Regions from separate parts of the Homo sapiens genome. Here region 2 is linked to region 1. Evidence: fine-mapped expression QTL. Tissue or cell type: whole blood. Region 1 holds a variant in brackets; the other region holds the start of a gene. All regions are shown on one strand. Distances are from middle to middle.

Region 1 (5,000 bases):
CCATCAAAATACTGACAGAAAATGCCTACCCTGATTTGTGTACCCAGCAATACTATTTTTCAAGCAGGAGAAAAAAAGAACATTAGAAAAATGGATCTAAATAACACAATTAAAAATCTTGAAATAATGGCTATTTATTGAGCCTGTGCCAAACAATTACAGAAGACACATTCCACTCAAGCAAAACTGGAACCTTAACAATATCTAAATATGTGCAAGGTGATGAAACAAGTCCATACGGAACTTAAACAATTAGTATCAAATGAGCCACAGTCTCTTGACTACAATGCAAAATTATTTTCAAAATGAGCCAAAAGAGATAAATTATTAAATCCACGGATGATCACTTTTCCATTTATACCAACAAGGTATACTGAATGTCCTGACCAACCACCTAGCTGAAAGCAACTAAAACCGCTGAACAAATTATTTTTTTAAAATCTTCTTGAATGCTTACGTGAGCTGGGAAACAAAACAAAACAGAAAATACTCAAGCTAATGACAGGAATAGAGAAGTCTATGGGAGAACTTAAGGTCAGCTTTTACCTTAAGGGTAGAACTGAAGAATAAAAACATGTTGTAAAGCATGACAACTGGCAAACAAAAGCAAGCATGGGAATGATAAATACAAAATTCAGGATAATGGTACACTGAGTGGAGTGAAAGGGCAGTGTGTACAGTGAGGTGGGCCACAGGAACATGGGACAGGGAAGTATCAGGATGTTCTTTTCATCTGAGCAGTAGGGTCATGGGTATTCATTTTATCATCAATTATCACACCTTATAAAAGAATAAACATATATCAGATATTATAGAATCTACAGAATTAAAAATTATCAATGTCATCAAATTCTGAGCCCCATAAAAATCACTGATTTAGCCTAGAATTCAGTGGAAGTATGTTATGTATATATGTATCCATCTTAAATGTTTGCATCAAATATTAAAGACTTTAAAGGTTAGAGAATGCGTATCATCAAATTCTGAGGCCATTATAAAGTGACTAATTTATCTCACACTTCAGTGAAGGTTCTCACACACAATACTTACGTAACGTTTCAGCTGCATTCTCAGATAAATATACGCTGGCTATAGAAAGCTGATGAGGACAATTACTGATTTATCTGTGCCCCCCCTCCCGCCCACCCCCGACATGTGTGTTTAAATAGCAGAAACCTCTGGATTCCAAACTGATTTTGCAACTTTGGAATTAAACCCTTTCCCAAGTTGGGTGCTGCCTGTGCAGGACAATATATGGATCACTTATAACAGTTCTGGAATTGCGAAGCATGTAGCAGGGCAGATTCTGCATTGAGACTTTACCAGGAGAAGTCAAATATATAATTACTTACCAAACCAGCAATAAAAACTCATAGTATATTCAAAACTTTCTTGCCAGATCAGGCTAAAATTTAAAAATATGCATTTTTTTCCCACATAAACGAAAATTATACAGGTTTTATACATGGCCTGTTTTAAACAACAGCATTTAATGCTGTTAATACCTTCCACATCCATGAACAGTTGTACCTCCCTGTTAATGAGGGATACATAAATTTGAAACTCAGTACAACTAACCTGTTGAAAGACATCTGCAACGCCTCTAATTTCTTTCTTGTTACTGTAATATGCTTATAAGCACCCTTGTACATGTATGCATACATGTGTAAATCTTATTTCTTTTGAATAAATTCATAAAAGTAGAATTATTAGGTCCAATCATAGGGAACTGCCAACGTTTCAACTGTTTTTTACTTACGGTAAAGATGGCAGTCAACAGGGTCACCCAACAAACTGGAGGACGTGAACATACTCAAGGCTTTTGGTATACTGGCCAATTCATGCATTTTGACAAATCATAGTATTTTGTTTTTGTTGAGACAGGGCCTTGCTCTGTCGCCCAGGCTGGAGTGCAGTGGCATGATCTTGGCTCACTGCAACCTTTGCCTCCTGGATTCAAGCTATTCTCCTGCCCCAGCTCCTCAGTAGCTGGGATACAGGTGTGTACCACCATGCTCTGCTAATCTTTTTATTTTTAGTAGAGACGGAGTTTTGCCATGTTGGCCAAGGCTGGTCTCGAACTCCTGACCTCAGGTGATCCACCCGCCTCGGCCTCCCAAAGTGCTG[G/C]GATCACAGGCGTTAGCCACCGCACCCAGACAATCATAGTATTTTCTTTCTTCCTCCCTTCCCTTTTTATGACTTTGGTACCACCTTTAACTTCCTCCAATTACCATTACTTGAGCCTGAAATACTAGCACGGAAAAACAACGACATTGCCAATCACCAATGGGAAAGGAATGTGACCATGACTATACTTTCTTTTAAAATGTATGTACTTGATAAACTATTACAAAAGGATACACAAAATGAAAGTGATTATTAGAATAGAGATAATTTAAGTAATGTTTTAGAATTATTTTTTGAACTTTCTAAAAGTGTGCCATGCCAAGCATGGTGGCTCATGCCTATACTCCCAGCACTTTGGGAGGCCAGGGCGGAAGGACTGCTTCAGGACAGGAATTTGAGACCAGCTTGGGTGGGTAACATAGCAAGACCCCCATCTCTACAAAAGACTTTTTAAAAATTAGCGAGGCATCATGGCACGCACCTGTAGTCCCAACTACTCAGGAGGCTGAGGCAGGGCGATTGCTTGAGCCCAGAAGTTCAAGGCTGCAGTGAGGTATAATCATGCCACTACACTCCAGACTGGGCAACAGAGCAAGACCCTGTCTCTATAAAAATAAAATAAAATTTTTAAAAATATTAAAATGTACCATATAATTTAACAGATTTTTAAAAATTAAAAAGACAAGAAGAGAAACTGTAGAAATGAATGACAGCAAAGAGTGGGGTGGAGGAGCTGAAAGGCTCTACAGAGTGCACATAGGAAGGAAAAGGCAAGCTATGTACCATCCCATAATGTGCAGCTCACACTTGTATGGTGATATGCAAATGGCAAATGCTGAATCCTCTAAGTCTGTTACTGTCTACAGACTGAAATTCAAAATATCACTGGGCAATTATATGGCAGACAATTTTATCTCATATAATGAACTTAACAGTCCTATACAATAGTTATTCCATATCTATATTTTAGTATATGAAACAATTAAGCACAAAGAGACTCAGAGGTACCTAAAATCACAGAGCTATTATATACAGAACAAGCACACGACTGTATTCACTGCATATTCCTTTAAGCGAAATTTCATTAACACTTAACTATACTTAGTGAATGCCTTGATCAGAATTTTTTTTAGACCACTCTGACTGGATGGCAGTATCAGGGATAGACTGAATTTTTAATAGGTTCATTACATTTAGCTTTCTCTTGGGTTTTATAAAGACCGCTGAACTGAATTCTATAGACTACCATAAAATATATCCTATTAGTAAAAGAAAATCTGGGATACATTGGTATGTGCAGTACTCACTTTATCATATAGGAAAGTCTTCCAACAAAGAAAAAGTAGGACAACCTAGTAACAGTGTGAACTAGGAACAAAAAAGTTGCAGACTTTTAGGTTAGCCTAGAAATTATAAAAAGGAGTCACTTAAGCCTGTATTATGCATTCTGGAAATCAATGTTACTAAAGTACCCATGTATTTCCTCGGTGGGTAGAATTTTTTTTCAAAGAAGTAATACAAGTAGTGACACAGATCACATACCAAGAGAAAAATGCTAAATAAACATGAGTTATTTAAACTCTCTTGTTATCTCCTTCGCCAAAATATGAAGTTCAACAGATTCCTAAAGGATGAGATGTAATAATACATGAGAACCAGTCTGTAAGATGAAAATTATTTTTGCAATGAGTAGGCTTCCAATAAGCTCAGCTGGAATCTAAAAACGCCTTCTTAATCTTTCCATTTTACCAACTTAACTCCCTTTCATATTCAACTCTGTATTATCGTAAACCCTCAAAACTTGTCACCAATCCCTTACCTCAAGGTTCCCCAAACCCTGGGCCATGGATCAGTACCAGTTAGTAGCCTATTAGGAACCAGGCCACACAGCAGGAGGTGAGCTGTGGGCAAGCGAGCATTACCGCCTGAGCTCTGCCTCCTGTCAGATAAGCAGTGGCATAAGATTTTCATAGGAGCGCAAACCCTGTTGTGAGGTGCACGTGTGAGGGATCTAGGTTGCGCATTCCTTATGAGAACCTAAGGCCTGATGATCTGAGGTCAAACAGTTTCATCCCGAAATCATTCCCCCACACCCCACCCTGCCACACCCTGTGGCCCTGGTCTGTAGAAAAACTGTCCTCCTCAAAACCAGTCGCTGGTGCCAAAAAGGTGTTAGGTAAAGCAGCAGGCCCCAACCTATCTCCTATGTGACTACTTCTTCACAGACAAGATGAAAACAGACACACCCCCGCCAACAGCTGGAAACTTCCTTAGCTTCCTACTCTCTCAGCTTGAATCTTTTAAATGGTAACATCTATCATTATCTCACATAGAAAAATATAGAACAACTTACCTTCTTACCTCCTTCTTTTGAATCTAATCCACCATTGCTCTTTCATGGCAGTAAGTGCCTAGACTTACATAATAAGCCTTTTTCTTCCTTATTTTCATATTCTGTTTTAGTTCAATCTCTGGGTCCTATCAAATCCATCCACTAAATTTGCTTATTATAATATACTTTCACTTTTATTTAATTTCTTGCCAGAATGATTGAAGAGCCTCTAAACATGCTTGCAACCTTTTAAAAATTCAATCTATCCCTGATACTGCCATCTAATCAGAGTGGTCTCAAAAAAAAAAATTCTGGTTACGGCATTTGCTAACTAACGTTTTTAAATGGCTCCCAATATCTGCAGGAGAAAACCTAAACCCCTGTTTACATAATGTTTGTGGTCCCTCTCTCACCAAAATGTTATGAACTATTTTAGCTAAGACTGCACCACATTTTCTCTCTCCCCTCCGTGTTCTTGTCTAGAAAACACAACTCTTCCTTTTCTACAAAGTTGAAGACTCCTCAAATGATGCTTTTCAGT
Region 2 (6,234 bases), 140 kb after region 1:
TTTAAGTCCCATCTCCTCTCAGAGTTTGCCCCAGTATTCTTTGCCCCAAACCGTAAACATGGAGTTTTGATTTCCATGTCTTTATTTAACCAATGACTTGCTTCTTGATGCATCACCACTGAATGATGTATGGGTCCTTCTAATCAGCGTCTACACTGAAGTCTTAGGTGATTGTCGGCTCCCTTATAAAGGAAGCATGTGTTTTAAATAATCTGTGCCTGTGTTCATTATTAAACTAGATTATTTGATAGTGACCTGAAATTCTTTAAAGGAAAACCTTGTAATATTGATCTTGTTGTTTCTGCAGTTTAATAAACAAGAAGGTTCAAAATGATGGTAGGTTCAGCCTGTTTTTCCCCACCAAGGATAACCACAAATACAAAACACAAAGATATTGGGACACAAACATCCTTAAAATGTTCCTTGTTTGAATATCATAGGGCTTTTCTAATTAATTGGCTAGTATAACTGGATGAAAATATTATCTATACTGTACCCCAACAAAAATACGTTGAATGCTAGTTTACTTTTATGTGTCTTGTAACTAGTTCATCCGTGTGCTTGCATCGCACTGCTCATAAGTTTTCAAATATGGGACGGAGTGCTCAACTCTCGAAGACATCATTTTCATTACCCGTTTCCCAAATAAAATATTAAGGTTGAGGCTCTGGTATTTCATTTCAAATAGTACTGGTCTGTTTTTCCAGCCATGAAAACGTTTACATTCTAAGTAAAAATCCTAGCGATGGTTAAGTCTTAAATACAAATCCCCAAACTCTTGCACTGCCTTCAGCTTTCAGCTTGAATGTATAACCAGTTCCCATAATTACTACAATATTACTATTATCTTAGTCTCATTGCCAAAAACCCAGCTGCAGGCTAACTATGCAAGAATGAGACACTGTTGAAATGACTCGGAAAAAAAAAAAAAAAGAAACTTTACCCTCACTGAATTTAGCTACAAAATTCTGCAATTAAATGAAACCAATTCACACACACACACACACACACACACACACACACACACACCCCTTCTTCTAAGAAAGAACAGGATGCCGCTACACAAGGAACCCAGAGAGAAATTCGGCAAACAGTTGCGCCTAAGCCACCGCGGCAGAGTCGGGGGCTGGGGGCGGGGAAGAGGAGAAAACTTGGGAAGCACAATGACTCCAGTGAGGACTTCAGTGAGGGCTCCAGGGCTCCCGCCAAGAAGCCCACGGGGCTCTACCAAACTTGAGGGTTTGCGTTCGGGGACACGGCGGGCTTGGGGCTCGGGCACCGGCAGGCCGCTCGGAGCCCACCCTTGGCTGCCCGCGAGGCCGCGCCCGGGGGACGGAGGTCGGGCCGTCGCGAGCCTCCCTCTCGCGTCCGGGCGAACCCTGCCGACGTCCCTGCGATTTCCCTCTTCCTCCTCCTGCCTCTCCCCTTTTGTTTTTCAGGCATTGGGTCCGCTCCGGCGGAGGCCGGCCCGTCCTCCCCGCGCCTCTGTCCGCCCTGCGCGCCCCCAGAGCCCCGGCCTCCTCGTCTTCCTCAGGCCCCTCGGCCTCTCCGCGCGCCCGGCCTTTTCGAAAGCCGCCCCCCCCTTCCTCCTCACGTCTCCCGGACTCCCCACGTCCCCCAGCCTTTCTGTCTTCCCCGAACCCCTTGGCCTCCCCGCGCGCCCCCAAAACCCCCGACCTCCTCGAGCTCCCGGCCTCCCCACGTCCCTCAGCCTCCCAGTCTTCCCCAAGCCTCCCGACCACCCAGCGCCCCGAACCCCCGCCTCCCAGCGCGCCCCCTGACCTCCTTAAGCCTCTCGGCCTCCGCGAGGGCCCCCAACCTCCTCACGGCCACCGGCCTCCCCTCCTCCCAGAACCCGGGCCGGGGGCGCGGGAGGGGCCGGTCTCCGCCGCATCCGCCCCGGGACTGGTTGGGCGGCCCCGCTCTGCCCCTCCGCCCTCAGGGCCGCGGCCCAGCCCACGACCGCTGCACAGAAGGAGCCCGCCCAGCCCCCGACCCGCGCCCCGCGCCCGGCGCCCCGCACTCACTCGGACCGCGGCTCGGCGCCGTGAAGCGAAGGCAGACGACGACGGGGCGGCGCTGGGCGACAGCAGCCGCGCTTCCTCCCACGCCTCACGCCGCGGGCTCACAGTGGTCCGGGACCGGCGGCGGCGGCGGCGGCGCGGGCTCGCGCCCTCGAGGCCGTGCTGCGTCGGCGCGGGCCCGCGCGCGTGCGCGGCAGCCGGCTGAGGCGCGCGTCCTCTCTCGGCAGCGCACGCCCGACCCGGTCTCAGTCCGGAGTTCCCGCCTCTCGGGGGGACTGGGCATGCGCGCCGCCCCCGCGCATGCCCAGCGCGCCGCTAGGCTCTGCTCGCGTAATTTGTCCTGTAGTGACCGCGCCGGGGTTTCGGGGTGGCCCGAGGCTGCGCGCGGGCGTGGCGGCCGGACGAGGAAAGCCCTGGTCTCGGGGGTGGCCGGGGTCGCCCCGCCGAGCGGACATCCTGGGGTCCCACCTGCCTCGCTCTCCGCCAGCGGGATTAGACGGACTTCGGGAAAGTCCTCCCCATCTCCTTCCCTGCCCCCAAATCCCGAAGGGGTCCCCTCTGGAGAACCTCCCTCCTGAGCGGCCCTGCGGCCCCGCCCCCAGAGTTGGACGCCCGCTGTCGGGCACCCGCTGCGGGCCCCGGGCCTTGCAGTGCACTCTCCAGGCACCACACCGACCCTAACGAGCGGTTCCTGGGCCCTTTTTGCAGACAAGGAAACTGAGGCTCAGAGATTCTTTTCATGGCATTATAGCTAAGTTGGGCTGGGCCATTATTTGATTTTGGAAGATGAAAAATCATGAAAGGGACTTAGAAGTCCACTGGAGGTAGACAGGTTACCTAAATGAACGCCAGCAGGGAACGAGCCCTGCAATCCCTCCCGAGGGCTACAGACCTGAGACGGGCTCCAGGAAAAGGAGGGAAGGCTCGCCCCGACACCGACCCGGGCTTCCGCGGTGTGAGCCAGTTTCAGCGAGGAGCTAGTTGGTTATGACCGGAACGTGCCGTAGGTGGGGTGGGGGAAATAGCAAAAGGCGAGGTTGGAGGGATTGAAAAATGCAGACGGCTGCGTGGGGCTTGCTTAGGTGCCTGGAGTTTATTCTTTAGGCAACAGGGAACCTTTGGAGGGCTTTAAGCAGGAAGTGATAACTGATTTGTGTTATTTAAAAAAAAAAAAAAGTCACTCTGGCAACCTTGTGGTCGGAAATGAAACCAGAAGAACCCTCAAGGCTGCAACTTTCATTTTTATGGTGTCATTTTGATGCTAACCACAAGCCAGGAAGCAGGACAGACAGGCACCGAGGCCTTTTGAAAGGTGAACACCCTGAAGCCCAGAGAGGTGACACACGTCATTGCATTAGGAGCTTTTATAAAAGTAAAAATGAAGTAAAATAAAAAGCTTTTGCTTATCAAGATTTTACCATATTTAAATGTTTGGGTTGTATTGTTCTTTAATGAGATGTATTAAGGTTGGTGTTTTTCTGGGTTTTGTTACTTTTTACTACATATGAAATTGTAAGGAATTGCCTCTCCATGCCAGCCTCAGGCCTTTGCGCGTGCTATTTGCTCTGCCTGGAACTTCTTGCTCCTCACTTCGTTCAATACCCTGCTTATATATCACCTCATTGATACAGCCGACCACTTCATATAATAGGAACCACCCACTGCCCTGCTATCCTCACACACAGTCCGCACTTAGTCTGCTCTGTTGTTCTCCAAAGCACCTATTGTTCACCATAGCCCAACACTGTGTTCTTGTTTATTTCTTGATTGTCCGCTCTCTCCACTAGAATCTTAGATTCATTAGAGCACGGGCTTTGTTTTGTTCACTAATAGGTCCTGGCACACAGTAAGTATTTGTCAAGTGAATGAACGAAGCTTTGGGTGATGTGAAGTGAGAGCTTATTATTAAAAGGATAAGAAAAGCATGGGAATTAAAAGAGGAGAGTGGAGGCACAAAGGGACTGCATTAAGGATAACTTTGGGGGAAGGGGCTGCACTTAGCATAGTAGACTAAAAATGGCCATCAATTCTTTGACACTTTTCCCAAGAAGAGGTGGAATTTATTCACCCCTTGAATGTGGATGGGATCTTGTAACTTGCTTTGACCAATGGGATGTGTCACAAGTGACATTGTACAAATTCCAAGCCTAGGCCTCAAGAGGCCATGCTGCTTTCATTTTCCCCCCTTAAGCCCAAGCTAGCCTCACGAGGAGGCCGTGTGGAAGAGAACTGAGGCACCCTGGCCAACAAGGTGCCACCTCCAGACATGTGAGTGAGCTGTACTAGACCACCCAGCCCCTGTGAAGCATACATAAGACCTGGAGAGACTGATGGAAGAACTGCCCAGCTGAATCCAACCCAAATTGCCAAACCACAGAATTGTGAGCCAATAAAATACATGTGGTTTTAAGCCTTTAGGTTTTAGGGTAGTGTGTTACACAATATTGTTTCCTGGACTCTGCCACGATACATTTGAAATTGACGTTCTTGAAGGGCAGCTTTGGTTATTATTATGCTTAGTAAAAGAAGAAATCAGAAAACGGCGGGAAGAAGTGATGCAAAGGAGAAGGGCAAACAGAGATACAAACGGGAAAAGGGACAAACCTAGGAAACAGTGGCTTGTCTTACCTCTTGGGCACACTTTGTGGTGCCTGAGAACTCAGGTTTAGGAGTAAGATGAACATTGGCACAGACCCAGGCTTAAGTTTAACCATTCACCAATAAACCTGTGAAGGTTGTATAATGTCTCTGAGCCTCAATTTCTCATCTGTGAAATGGAGGCTCTAAAGGATGTACATTAGAATTAGGCTGTAGAGAGGCCGGGCACGGTGGCTCACACCTGTAATCCCAGCACTGTGGGAGGCCAAGGCGGGTGGATCATGAGGTCAGGAGATTGAGACCATCCTGGCTAACAAGGTGAAACCCCGTCTCTACTAAAAATACAAAAAAATTAGCCAGCGTGGTGGCGGGCGCCTGTAGTCCCGGCTATTCGGGAGGCTGAGGCAGGAGAACGGCGTGAACCCGGGAGGCAGAGCTTGCAGTGGGTGGAGATGGCGCCACTGCACTCCAGCCTGGGTGACAGAGCAAGACTCCATCTCAAAAAAAAAAATTAGGTTGTAGAGGAAACAAACCATTCTCATAAAACAGCAGGGTGCTTAGCATATATAAGTGTTATTGATCGACTATAGCATTGCTTTATCGATTACTAATAATTTGCATGATGATGGAGGGGTATGCAAAGGACCACCAGAGCACAGAGTCAAGGAAGGCTGACTTCTCTCAGTCTCTGTGGGTCAGAACCTGAATACGCTGTCTCCAGACCTCATAGCAACCCTGTGATGTAGACGCTATTATCGGCACCTCCATTTTATAAATTTGAAAACTACTGCTCAGACAGCTGGGCGCAGTGTCTCACGCCTATAATCCCAGCACTTTGGGAGGCCGAGGCGGGCGGATCACTTGAGGTCAGGAGATCGATACCAGCCTGGCCAACCACAGTGAAACCCTGTCTCTACTAAAAATACAAAAATTAGCCGGGTGTGCTGGCACGTGCCTGTAATCCCAGCTACTTGGGAGGCTGAGGCAGGAGAATTGCTCGAACCCAGGAGGCGGAGGTTACAGTGAGCTGAGGTTGGGCCATTGCACTCCAGCCTGGGTGAAGAAGCAAGACTCCATCTCAAAAAAAAAAAAAAAAAAAAAAAGGAAAAGAAAACTACTGCTCAGAAAAAAAAAAAAAAAAAAGAAGAAGTAGCAGCAGCAATGAGTCAGATAGCAGGGCTGGAATTCAAGGCTGCATCTGTCCAACTGCAAAGCCTGTGCTCCTTCCTCTCCCCAGCGCAGTCTCTGATGCACTCATATCCCATACAAAAAAAAAAAAAAAAACCAAACAGAGAACACAATTTGGCTTCTCCCCTTCCTGCACTGCACCAGATGGGGTGAGCGCTGACCTTGCGTGGGAAGCTTTCAGGAAGAGCTTCCTGTGTGTTGGCAGAGCAGCTGCAGTGAGCCTGGGAGCAGTTCCCCCTTGAAAAGCCCCCCACCTCCCTGGTCGGCTAAGGGCTCCCTCCCAGGAGGGGCTCACTCACGCTGGAGAAGCAGAAACACACATTAAGGCCAGGGGTGGATGCACAGTCATGGGGGCGTGGAAGCTGATATCACTGAAGAGACACTGAAGCCCAGGTTCCTGCCCACATCACAGCTGACCACCCTG

The links. PIP is the estimated chance that this variant, and not a neighbour inherited with it, causes the effect.
Region 2: PTK2 starts here. The variant in region 1 is fine-mapped to the expression of PTK2 in whole blood (TOPMed, PIP 0.98).

What each region holds. Positions count from the first base shown.
Region 1 is chr8:140,858,616-140,863,615 of GRCh38, forward strand. All of the region lies in intron 5 of PTK2 (protein tyrosine kinase 2), which reads right to left. Among named protein-coding and RNA genes, the nearest start is that of MIR151A, 130 kb to the left of the region's middle. The variant G/C (reference allele first, on the strand shown) is at 2,128.
Region 2 is chr8:140,999,098-141,005,331 of GRCh38, forward strand. PTK2 (protein tyrosine kinase 2) reads right to left here and starts at 2,185. Exons shown (of 36, transcript NM_001352702.2): 1 at 2,028-2,185. RefSeq lists silencers at 1,850-2,179, 2,200-2,619.